Linked DNA regions of Homo sapiens. The protein of the gene in region 1 purifies or fractionates together with the protein of each later gene. This does not show direct contact. Each region holds a gene or a part of one and is shown on either strand. Other genes may lie near its edges.

Evidence for each region. The genes of interacting proteins can lie anywhere in the genome.
Region 2: the proteins of GRAMD2B (region 1) and EXD2 purify together in Homo sapiens (affinity purification with mass spectrometry; 3 studies listed by BioGRID and IntAct, with this or other methods). This does not show direct contact.

The regions. Positions count from the first base shown.
Region 1 is NC_000005.10:126,489,368-126,494,864, forward strand, and holds the end of GRAMD2B (GRAM domain-containing protein 2B), read left to right. Parts: intron 1-914; coding exon of another isoform or gene 915-917; exon of another isoform or gene 918-3,547; coding exon 3,548-3,589; 3' UTR 3,590-4,997; downstream 4,998-5,497.
Region 2 is NC_000014.9:69,236,457-69,243,497, reverse strand, and holds part of EXD2 (exonuclease 3'-5' domain-containing protein 2), read right to left. Parts: coding exon 6,956-7,041; intron 5,924-6,955; coding exon 5,567-5,923; intron 4,428-5,566; exon of another isoform or gene 4,281-4,427; intron 2,615-4,280; coding exon 2,398-2,614; 3' UTR 1-2,397. UniProt on the Homo sapiens protein: Exonuclease that has both 3'-5' exoribonuclease and exodeoxyribonuclease activities, depending on the divalent metal cation used as cofactor.

The DNA of each region.
Region 1 (5,497 bases):
ATCAAGAGTTTCAAATTAGCTTGCTGAAGGTGACACACCTAGAAAGGCAGCAGACGTGAGTCTGCTGAGAGAGCATTAGAAGAAAAATACATAAATAAAGTCAGCAGATCTGGAACCTGAACCAGGCCTGTCTGACTGCAAAGTTGTGCTTAGAAGCTCTCTGCTTTACTGTTCCTCAGAATTCAGCTTTAGGCTTTGTTGATAAGGCCACAGATGTACCTTTACCTCAAAGTATCTACAGTCCAAACAACGCTAGGGCAAAACTGTCCTTAGCCTGTGGCATTCTTAGAAGGCAGCAGGAGGGTGAGCTGGAGAAGAAGATAGGCATGCCAGAAATATCCCAGAAATAAACCTGATTTACATGTCTTATTTTCTTCTCCTTTATCTGATAACTACTTTGTTTTTACCCTAATCCTTCAGGAAAGGCTTAGAGAGAATTCAGTGTTCAATTACAACTGCTGTCACAAACGCCCAGTATCTGGTAGCTTTACATCATAGTACAGTTATGCTTACTTGGGAAGACATATTTCTTCATATTAAATACAAATTAGTAAAATTTCATATTAAATACAAATGAATAAAATTATCTTTGTTTTCCTACACTCAGTGTTAGTTAGTATTTAACAGCTAAAGTATTAAGAGCAAAGGAGTTTCCAAACTTATGTTCTAAACCAAGTCAGGTCAGAGAATTCATATTAAATCATTCTATTTATGGGCAAATGTAGAAAGTTCTTTACATCGAGAATCAACCTAGAGAAGGTATGAGTTAGCTTTCTTCCTTTCTAAAACATTAGTTTCTGAGAATTGAAGATAAACGATTTTTTTTAATGAAATGCTTACAAATGTTTGGCTTTCATGCAACCCAGAGAATGAAGTGGTATTAATTTTCAATTTTGTTCACTCTTACATACCAGTGATATTCTTTGGATTAGAAACACATGGGATCCTGCCGCCTTCTTTTGTGTTTCTTCCCACTCTCCCGCTGGGCCTGGCCGGGACACCACATTCTGTAACCAGGGAACTGAAAACAGAAGAGCTTGTTCACAGCAGGCAAACAGCCTCAGGTCTTGTGCAGGGTTCAGACAGCTTAGCAGGGAGGCCGGGGAGGTTTACAGGAGCACCAGTGGAGACTACCTTTGTCTCAAAGCAGAAACTGATTCAGTAAAAAGTGGATTTGGGGTCAAAATGCGCGTGTTGATGTTCTAAAAAGTTAGAAGTTGCACACATTGCTCAAAAGAATCTAAGTATTAAAAAAGAGGTACCAGGCCACACCCGTGCTCTTTTTGATTCATCTGCACCTTTCCTCAGAGGCAGCTGGGCACTAGCGCAGCACAGCCTGCCGGTGAAATAGCAGCTCCATGCTGTTGAAGGTCTTATACTCCATACCAGCAATTCCTTCTTCTCACCTTCGGGGGCCGGTGATGTCTAAGCCTCATGATCTTTCTCTGCTTATAACTTCCCTATTTCTGTTCATGGCATCACTGCTCTTTCAGTCATCCTCATTGGAAATCTAAGAATAATTTTTAACTCCCTCTTTCCACCTGCCACTGGTTGACTAGTTGGCAAATCCAGTGAAGTCTGTCTTCAAATGTCTCCTCAAAGTTTCTTCCCACAGGTACCATCCTAGTCCATTCAGCCTTCCCACTACCAGTCAGATAGTGTGAAGCTGGATCTCATTGTGGTTTTTGCTTGTATTTTCCTAATTATTACTGAGGCTGAACATCTCATATATTTACTGGCCATTTGGGTTTTCCTCTGTAAATTGCTTAATTCTCTCCTTTGTTTTAATTTTGGGTTTTGTGTGTGTGTCATCGTAGGTGTGTTTTGTGGATTTGGGATGTCAGTTCTTTGTTTTATTCCTTTTTCTACCTCCCACTCCTGTTTTTCCATTTATCTTTGGTCCTGAGGGATACATGAGGAAGAAACAAAGCAAGAAAGTTGGGGAAGAAAGCAATGTCTCTTACGGGAACTGAAGTAAACACTTATTTTCTTAGTTCTGGAAGTGGAATTAATGGTGGAACAGTATAGTAGAAAGAGCATAAATGTTGGAGTCAGGCCTTTGTTCTTATCCCTGCTCCACTGCTTACTACCCACATAACTCATCCTGCTACTTCAGCTCCCTGGCCCTTGGTTTCATGTGTAAAGCCTGTCTTTGTGTGGTGTTGTATGGCTCAGGAGCAGGCATGCCTTTGCTGGCACTTACATATCAGATCCCCTTCCTCCTCACTCACCTGAGAACACCCATAGGACATCACAGACTGTTCCTCTAAAAAACAATATGTTCTTTCTTTTCGTCTGCAAGGTTTCTACTCCCATCACAGGGCTGGTTGTTGAGAATTCCTTGCTCTGAATTCTTTTTTTTTTCCTTCTTTGTTTTTTTTCCCAAGACAGAGTCTTGCTCTGTCACCCAGGCTGGAGTGCAGTGCCGCAATCTTGGCTCACTGCAACCCCCACCTTCCAGGTTCAAGCAATTCTCCTGCCTCAGCCTCCCAAGTAGCTGGGATTACAGGCATCTGCCACCACACCCAGCTAATTTGTATATTTTTTAGTAGAGACAGAGTTTCACCATGTTGGCCAGGCTGGTCTGGAACTCCTGACCTCGTGATCTGCCCACTTCATCCTCCCAAAGTGCTGGGATTACAGGCACAAGCCACAGCACCCGGCTTCTATGAATTCTTACAAGTTCCTTTATTCAACGGTCATTTACTGAGAACATTTTTGATGTCCAACATCGGACCCGTCTTAAGATCCAAACATCTGACGTGGTTGGTCTCTGTCCCTGTGAAATCCACAACCTTCTTGGAAATGTTAAATAATAATATCTAATTGGAGTAACAGGAGTGTTAAACATTATTATGTGGGATTTTTCTGATTAAAACCATCAAATGGGTTGTGTAAAGACCAATTTCCCATTGTCTTCTAATGCATTTGGGTCACACTGGTGTTGCCAGTTCCTTGTTCTTTTTCTTCCATCTCATTTATCTCAGTCTCTACTGACATTTTCATCTTTCTGCCATTCTCTCTTTTTTTTTTTTTAAGCCCTGTATTTCCTCATTTTAAAGTGGATTGTCAGCTGGACATGGTGGCTCACACCTGTAATCTCAACACTTTGGGAGGCTGAGACAGGAGGATCACTTGAGCCCAGGAGTTCTAGATCAGCCTGAGAAACATGATGAAACTCCATGTATACAAAAAGTGCAAAAATTAGCCAGGCATGATGGTGCACGCCTGAAGTCCCAGCTACTTGGGAGGCTGAGGTGGGAGGATCACTTGAGCCCAGGAAGTCAGGGCTGCAGTGAACCATGATCACGTCACTGCATTCCAGCCTGGGTGACAGAGCGAGACCCTTTCTTTTTCCCAAAGAAAAAGTGGATTGTCAGAGTTCTAGTCTATGAAAAAGCATCTATTTGCCTCACCTAAATTTAACCCTTTTGTAGCTTTTTATTCAAAGTGGAATAATATAGAATGCTATATAGACTATAACAAATATGCCCTTAATATACTCCATTCTATTTAATAATAGGAACTTCTTTTCTTTTATTTCAAGATACAAAATAACTTACAGAAGTTGCTTGAGAATGGTGACTGATCGACCAGATTGCTTGGGCCATCGGAATACCTCATGTTTCCCTTTGAAGAAGGTGCTTCCTGAGGCGTTTTGTTTGAGTGCACCCTGCTGGTCAGAGGTGCAAGCAGATGAGAATCCAGACATTGCATGTGGAGGTCTCCAGCTCAGGAAAGTGAGGAGGGAAATAATTTTGGTTCTTGTGCAATAAAAGTTGACCTTGACTCTCTGAGGAAGATTTTGCTGCTTTTGCCTGAAGAAAACAGACCCATCTCTGGAGGTCTCAGGAAGGGCCCAGCGAACACACTCTCTTGGATAATTACCACGATGGCGTCAGCAAACACTCCACCCTGTGCCTTTTTAGTCCTTCCCGCCCTCCTGCCTCTCCCTTACACCCCTCTTAACGACTTTCAAACTAAAGGATACATCATATACTGACAAACTCAATGTGGTCCTTTCAAGAATTAGCCATGAGTCTCAAAAAGGCAATAAATGGCTCTAAGTGGACAGGTTTGCTTCAAACAAGTAACATCTACATTTTGTCTTTTTTTTTTCAGTTCTCCTGTTATGTTCTGGTTGAAATCACCTGTGTGTCTTAATTTCTCAATTCCTTTTTGGCAAGAATATCAAGCAAGGTGAATTTAACATTATGTTTATGTTTTGTTTTGTTGCTGTAACTAATAGTTAATTGGACTGATTCTTACCCAGCCCTGGTCAAGAATCTGTGAGGCATGTGACTGAAGTACTAAATTAAACTTATTTTGAAACCAAACCTAATTTTTAAGCCAAAAGGTGTAATAGTGATTTAATACAGGATGAAAAACACTGAATTTTTAAGACTGTAGGTGGACTATGTTAGTAGTTTTCAAGCAGGATGTCTGTATTCAGCATTCAATAATGCTAAAATCCCTTTCAGCATGAAATTTGTATGTTTTTATCCTTTGCTGACTAAAATAAAATAACTGGTGGTTTGCTAACTATTTACCATATGGGTTGGCTGGTTTTTATTAATAATTGTTTAGGGTATCATAAGATCTGTAAGTACAAAGGATATTCTGTTTCTATCTGCAATGCATTTGATAATCATTTCTATGAAATGTATTTTATTTAATCAGATAAGCTAATAAGCGAATTGGTTACATCGTTTGTATCTGTTGGCCTAGTGGACAGCTGTGCCTGGTGCACCTCTGGCTTTTAATAAATACTCATTGGTTGAAACACCCTGCTAACACTGTGTTTTGTCAGTTCGTAAATTCCTTTAACCAAGACTTAACTATGCTTTTTAACTCTTTTTCCACCTGCCATCTACTACTACCAACTCACTTATACTTCCTTCCTCCCAAGTAATCATTTCAAAACTAAAAAAGGATTTAAGTTCTTGGGTTACAACGGTTTAAAGGAAAGAAAATGAACTTTGAAGTCAAAAAAAAAAGAAAAAAAAAAAAGACAATGCTTCATTCCTCAGTCCACATTTATGAGTTATGTGACCTTTAGCAAAATATTTGGCCATATCCCCCCATTTTATTGATGAGGTTGAAAGTACCAGTAAAAAGTATCAGTGTGAGGATTAAATGTGATAATGTCAGCCAGGTGCAGTGGCTCATGCCTATAATCCCAGCATTCTCGGAGGCCAAGGCAGGAGGACTGCTTGAGCTCAGGAGGTTGTGATCAGCCTGGACAACGCAGCAAGATCCCATTTCTACTAAAAATAAAAATAAATTAGCCAGGTGTGGTGATGCATGCCTATAGTCCCAGCTACTCAGGAGAATTGCTGAAGTCTGGGAGACTGAGGCTGCAGTGAGCCACGATCACACCATTGCACCCTAGCCTGAGTGACAAAGCAAGACCTTGTCTCAGTCAATCAATCAGTCAATGTGATGATGTCTCTAAAGCACATAGCCATGTCAGGCAAGTAGTATGCTTTCATAACAG
Region 2 (7,041 bases), on another chromosome or scaffold:
GTTACTCGTGATACCATGTTAATCAGTGAGAGGGTAAAGTTAGGATACCAACCTGTATCTATGTATGACCTTCAATTTTGTGTAAATATACACCTTATATGCACTTTTTAATACTGAAAGGAAATTCATAAACATATCAGCAAAGTTTAGCTCTGTTTTAGATGGAGAGAAGATGGCTAATTTTTATTCTTTGTTTAGATTCTTCTGTAATGAGCATTGTTACTTTTATATCAGAAAAATAGACATTTGCCATAAAATAAGTCTACCCTCAAATCTCTGATTTAAGACGACAATTGTCAGTCTTAGGAAAAGCCTGCTAAAGTTCAAAGCAGACTCAAAGAAAAAAGATTCAAATCTACACAGTGACTCTCTCCTGAAAAGGATGAGAAATCTTGTGTGACGCAGTCTGGCTTTTTCCTCTACTTTGCTGCTGGCTCTATTTTACTGCGCCTCACAGAAAGCTCCATGGGAAAACCCTTTCCCTAGCACCTTAAATGACCTTAAGTGTTTCTCACCTCTTGGCATGAGGATTAGAAGGAAAGAAAATGAAACAGCCCTACTCCCTTGTTTCAAAGGAAAAATTTTTCTTGCAAAGCTATCAAAATGACTTAAAATCAGCTATGCAAAATTTGAAACATAAGTCATGAGTTACGTTCAGTAACCAGTTGCTTTTTTCTCAAGAATGAATATAAAAACAAATCTATGAGTGCCCTCTTGTGGCAAGCCTGACTATTACCACAACCCAAGTACCAGCCTCTCCCTGTCTATTTCCACGGCTCTCCTCCACTCCTGGGCTCCGCATAACACAGCCAGGAGGCAGAGACCCCATAATAACCCACTACAGTGAATGCACATTCCTCAAAGTGGCTGGTACTATTTGTTTTCAAGGATTTCTAGTTTAGATCCCAGAAATGCCTGCCTGAAGACAAGTGGGAATGAAGGGTCAGAAGAGCAAGATGCAGGATGTGCACGTGGGTTCATGGGCTGCTACTGATGGCCGATGGTGACTGTGTCTGGTATATCCATGCACACATACCATGGCACTGCCAGGAGGCAGGGACCTGTAGGATAAATAGCCCCTCCCCTAGGAATGCCAGTTTTATAAAGTCGCGAAGTTTTACATTTACATCCAGTGAGCCTTGTGCTTACAAGTAGTTTTATTATTAATTTTAGAGTAAACATCACCAACTTGGGCACAATTCCAAAATAGAGCTCTTGTTGGATTCTGGTCATAAAATTCTTTTTTAAGCTTGTTAAGATCTTATAAAATAAGAAAGTTTTCCCAATACTTTAGAAAAATTACTAATCATTAATAAGTCGATTTTATACTCAAAGTAATGGCCTAACATTTTGAAAGATGAAACAACGCTCCTCTTTTGAACATCTAATGTATTAAGTAAGCTCAGTGTCCCAGGCTTCAGAGGAGACAGAGAAGTCCTCATATTGCAACCTGACCAGATGACTCTGGGAGTGAATTAAATGCTTAAAAGAGGTCAGTCTTGCAAATTCGATGAAGCACAGAATACAGGGGAACTGATACTGATTCTGATAAAAGATAACATTACTCTCAGAAAGGGGTGAAGCTAAAAATCTTGCAGTTCTGGGGCAGGAGGAGTGCAACAAGCAGGCAACAAACAGCATGAAAGGAAAAGCTGAGTGAATTTCAAAGTTCTATTGGGAGATGGAGTTTGTGGTTCTTTCTGCCCCACCCAGGTCAAAGGCTCATGTCCAGAAAAGGATTTCTCCCAGTGATAGGGTGGAAGTGTGTGGCAGGAAGTTGCTGTTTGGTCCTGGAAGTGTAAAGGAAAGCCTTTTCAAGTACGTGAAGTAGACTGAAGTGACCCAGATGGGATGGATCCCAACCACATGAGTTACGGGAGAGCATGAAGCCAAAGAAATGATAATTATGAAGTTGAATTGGGAAAATAAATTTGACTCCTTGTTCACTTCTCCAGCCTTTGGAAGAACTTTTTCTCCCCTCCTAACAGGACCGATATACTGGACAGCCCCTGTTAGAGATAAACCGAGGCACTAGACAAGGAAGAAATGCATTAAAAACATTTTTTTTAAGTCTTGACAAGTCACTTCTGGGAGAATTCTTCATTTTTCCTCTGCACAGGGACAGCAGAAGAGGGAGAGTAAAAATAAAGGCGAAGGCCTCTCTTGTCCACAAAAATGAGAGGAAAAAAGACCCTGCCCGTTTAAAATCCAAAACCATAAACTCTCCTTCAAACAATATCTTTGCTCCAGCAGAAGCATCCTGGGATTAGTCTAGGTTAGTATTCTGAGTTGTGTCACACAGGCTTTGACAATTAATGATGTACTAAAATGGGAAGAGGTGACTCTTCAACCTTGGCTCCAGCTTCCCACTTGTCCTAACTGGGAGGAAAGCAGCTATCAAGACAGCTGGATGGGAAGATCTTCCCCGAATTTCCGGAGCAGCTTCTGATGGTTGTGGTCCACTGACCACTGCTGGGGCAGGTGCTTGGGCTGCATGGAGTCCAGGAAGTGCTGACGCCAGCGGCTCTCCAGCTGCATGAGGGAGCGCAGGCCACCCTGGCTGTGACACTGCACCACCTTCAGCCCGTGAGGAACATAGTTTTCATTGGAGATTCTGCCAAAACATGAAAAACAAAGTGTCTGAGGGAAACAAGCGCAGGATGGCCTCACAGACAGCTTCAAATGCTGCGCGCCAAGGGTAACTGGGGAGGTTGAAGGACTCCTAAAGGGTTAGTTACTTTGGTGTTTTCGAAACATCCTCTTTCTTATCTCTGCCCTTTTTATAGTCTGAACATACGACTCGCAATCCCAACAGAAGGTATTTGAGGGTTCTGAGCTCTACTGACAGGAAGGCCACTTCATAATGTTCAGCTCCCACGAGAGGGGCACTACCATCCAGCTGATAATGGATGAAGAATGCTGGTCTTCCATTTCTTCCAGGATTACCCAGTGACCAGTTCACCCCTCTTTTAAGTTGTTCATTCTGGGACACAGTATTTATATGAGGCTGTTAAATCGGCCCGCATGTTACACTTTTTCACAACACAATTTAATAACTGAATGTCAAATGCAAGGTAGCATATTTCTTTAGAGCCTTTTTTCTCACAAAAAGATGCCAAGCCACAGTGGTGAGAAGTGTTTCGGTCACAGTGAAATGCTTCCATGGTTGCTCAGTTGTGCAAATGGTGCCATTAAATGAGAAGATGAATGCCTCCCTCCTTCCTAACTAAGCAGAGTCCTTAAAAAACTGCTCCGATGCTGTGTGAATGGTGCTTTCACCTCCTGTGAATAAAGATGACCTTCCTCAAGGAAGCACCCTGCCCACACACACTCTCCTCTCCCTACATCCATACCCCATGTTCAATCCTCCCTCCCAAGACACCCGCCACCCCAGCAGTGTTGGCGTCTCTGGGTATCTGCAGACACTTTATTATTAATATTTAGCTCATGCGCTTCCCACTAACTTGCCTGTCTCCAAACAACTGTTCTTCTCAGTCACAAGTCCAGCATTCATCTACCCAATTCAGCAAGATGAATTTGTTAGAAAAGTCTGTGGCCGAAAGGGGAGGTTTAGCTGCTTTAGAAAACATATTGGCAGCTGGGCGTGGTGGCTCATGCCTGTAATCCCAGCACTTTGGGAGGCCAAAGCAGGAGGATCACTTGAGGTCAGGAGTTCGAGACCAGCCTGACCAACGAGGTGAAACCCTGCCTCTACTAAAAATACAAAAATTAGCCGTGTGTGGTGGCACACACTTGTAATCCCAGCTACTTACAAAACAACATCTATTCTACAACCTCACAAAATAGTTATGGGGATAAAATTCTATAATTCTTTTAAAACCCTGAAAGATTTTTTAAATTTAAGATATAGTAGCAGTTAACCAGTAAGAAATCTAAATCCTACTTTGTCGGGTTGTCATGAGAAACAATTAAGGCAATTTATGTGAAGTTTATTAGCTGGTTTGCTGCAAGATATAGTATATCTATAAATAACTGTTCAATAAATATTTGCAGTATCTGTAATGGATCAGTAGTAATGGATAAGAGTAAAAAAATTTTTGTTTTCTAAAAAAATTAAATATTTGCTTATAATTGGAGTTACTTTTTTATTTTTCAGTTAACAAAAACCAGCATCACGCTCAAGGTTTTGTGAACTTATCAGTTCCCTTATTTCAACTCCTGGTCCTGTTGGAAAAAGTGACAGTTGGGAGGCAGAACTGCGCATGGTAGCCCAGAGCTCTTACCATCTGAGCCACGTGCCCATTCATTTCTCATTTCAGAATACTGCATTGTGTCACAAGAATTCAACTATGTACTCATGGAGAAGGAGGGAGAAAGCAAGGAAGGAAAAAAGAGAAAAGTAATTTACATAGTAACAGCAATTCTGCTCAACATTCCATTCAGTGAGCCGATACCCTGGAGTGCAGGTGAGATAGGAACCATGAATTCATTAGTCACAGTTCTCACAGACCTGTATAAAGTCGGAGACACAAAACCACACATAGAATTGGCCCTCCATCTTTGTGGGTTCTGCATCTGTGGATTCAAACCTCAGATCAAAATGATTTGGGGCCAGGCACAGTGGTTCATGCCTGTAATCCCAGTTCTTCCAAGGCAGGTGGATTGCTTGAGGTCAGGAATCTGAGACCAGCCTGGGCAGCCTGGTGAAACCCCATCTCTACAAAAAATACAAAGATTAGCTGGGTGTGGTGGTGCATGCTTGTAGTCCCAGCTACTTGGGAGGCTGAGGTGAGAGGATCACTTGAGCCTGGGAGGTGGAAGTTACAGTGAGCCAAGATAGTGCCACTGCACTCCAGCCTGGGTGACAGAGCCATATACTATCTCAAAAAAACAAAACAAAAAAACCACAAAACTATTTGGAAAAAAAAAAAAAAAAACTATCTGTACTATCTGTACCAAACATGTACAAACTTTTTTCTCATTACTTCATAAACAATAAAATATAAAAGCTACTTACATAGCATTTGCATTGTATTAGGTATTATAAGTAATTTACAGGTTATTTAAAGTATACAGGAGGATGTGTGCAGGATATATGCAAATACTATGCCATTGTATATCAGGCACTTAAGCATTGGTGGATTTTAGTATCCAAGGGAGGTCCTGGAACCAATCCCCCATGGATACTGAGGGGTGAATGTACTGTATCTCATGGGGAACTTCAGAACTTCGAGGGTGTTATTGGACTATTATTTCATCTCATGTGCTGGCATGAGGATTTACGTCTGCATAGAATGTGTAAGATGCAGCTCCACCACAACTGCACTCGCACGCTAATCACAAAAATGACCGAAATTAAGTGTATGATCTTTAAAAAGGTCAAAGATAGGCACCTCACAAAAGCAAGTTTCCTATGGAAAGGAACTCCTCAAGTAGATTGTTCTATTCCACTTCCAAGGTATCTTAAACTACTAGACACCTACTAGGTGAAGCATGAGGCTAGGCACTGTGCCTAAGCAGCCAATGCCCCCTCCCTGGCAAGCATTCTCACTAAGTAATGAGGGTTAATGTCCCTGGTACATTCCACAATTCCTGTGCTTTGTACCTGGTCTCCAGGCTGGCAGCCTCTTGAAGCATCTCCTCTGTGACCACGTCTGTGTTATAAAACTCTCTGAGTGCTTGCAGCAGCTCCTCCTTTCGCTGAGTAGGCAGGCTCTCCGCGTTGAGCAGGGCCCTGGCCCCAGAACGCACCTGCCGGCGCTCAGGATCTTCCAGCAGGCGCAAGCCCTCCTCAGAGCCGATGGGGGCCTGGAACTCCTTGGCCAGCTGCTGCTTCAGATGGTTGTCATAGTAGTTGGAAATGGCATGGCAGGAGGTGCAGAGCAGCAGCACATCGTGGGAGTTGTGGTCCTTCATCTCGATGGGGAAGTGCTTCCGGTACTCATGTGGAATCACGTTCTTCCTGGAACAAGCCCAGCCGGAAAGCAGCGCTCATAAGTGTATGACAGAGCACATGGGAAGACAGCAGACAGGCTACTGGGGTTCTAACTGGGGCCTAACCATGACTGAGAAGCCTTGGGCACCACCGCCCAACACAGATCACAGAAAGGCAGTATCACCTATTCCACTCTCAGCCCATCTGTGTCTTAGCTTCCTCTCTCCTGCAAGTAAGTACAGACCACCTGCTGTGGGCTTCAGTGGTGGGCCAGCATAGTGACAGGTTAATAACAACCTCTGAGAAGGCTGTGCTCCCAGAAGGGAAAGTCTCAGAGAACTGAAAAGATACTCTAATGGCCTTTGACAACTGGAAAACAACTCTCTCAAGAAGGCCTAGGAACCTGAAAAAGCCAATTTCCTTCATCTGAGGAATACCTTAATCTATTTCCCTGGTTCACCAGGTTCATCATTATTTTCTAAGGAGAACTAAGCTCTCAGGAAAAACTCTTGGCAGCAATGACTTTGTCTCACTTTGCAGGGGAGAAAGGAGGAAAGTGAGTGACTCCACAGAAGCCAGGGAGAAAGCCCAAGTGTCTGGGCACTCAGACGTAGTCGGCAGCCTCACCCTCACAGTGCAGGGGCCCTGATGTGAAACAGTATTACAACACAGAGCAGGCTTCAGGACATCTGGATACTCCATGAATAAAACCATGGCTCAAAAAGCTGGTCAGCCAGTCAAGAGAGGATGAGAGGGACACAGCTTCTGAAGGAACTGGTCTTCAGTCTTTCATGAGCAAAAGGGAACCACTGTCCCCATGACAGACCATTACTGAGTATGGTGTTGCACTCCAGAAACTGAGAAACGGCTCAGGAGGGGTAAGGGCCACTATAGCAAGGGCGGCAGAATACCAAAGCTCTTGGGGAAGCTGGATACTAGGAACAAGCCTCTCAGCCAAAGTGGACAGACTCAGCCACAGCCCCCAAAGGCTCTGCATATGGCTACAAAAGCAATTTCCATCTGCCACAGACAACCAGGGTGGCCCAATGCTGCACTCACCGAATGTAGGAGTCTCTCTTGCCACACACTACACACAGGTTCTCTTTAACCATCAAGTAATAGTCTCCAGGAGATTCGGGCCTTCC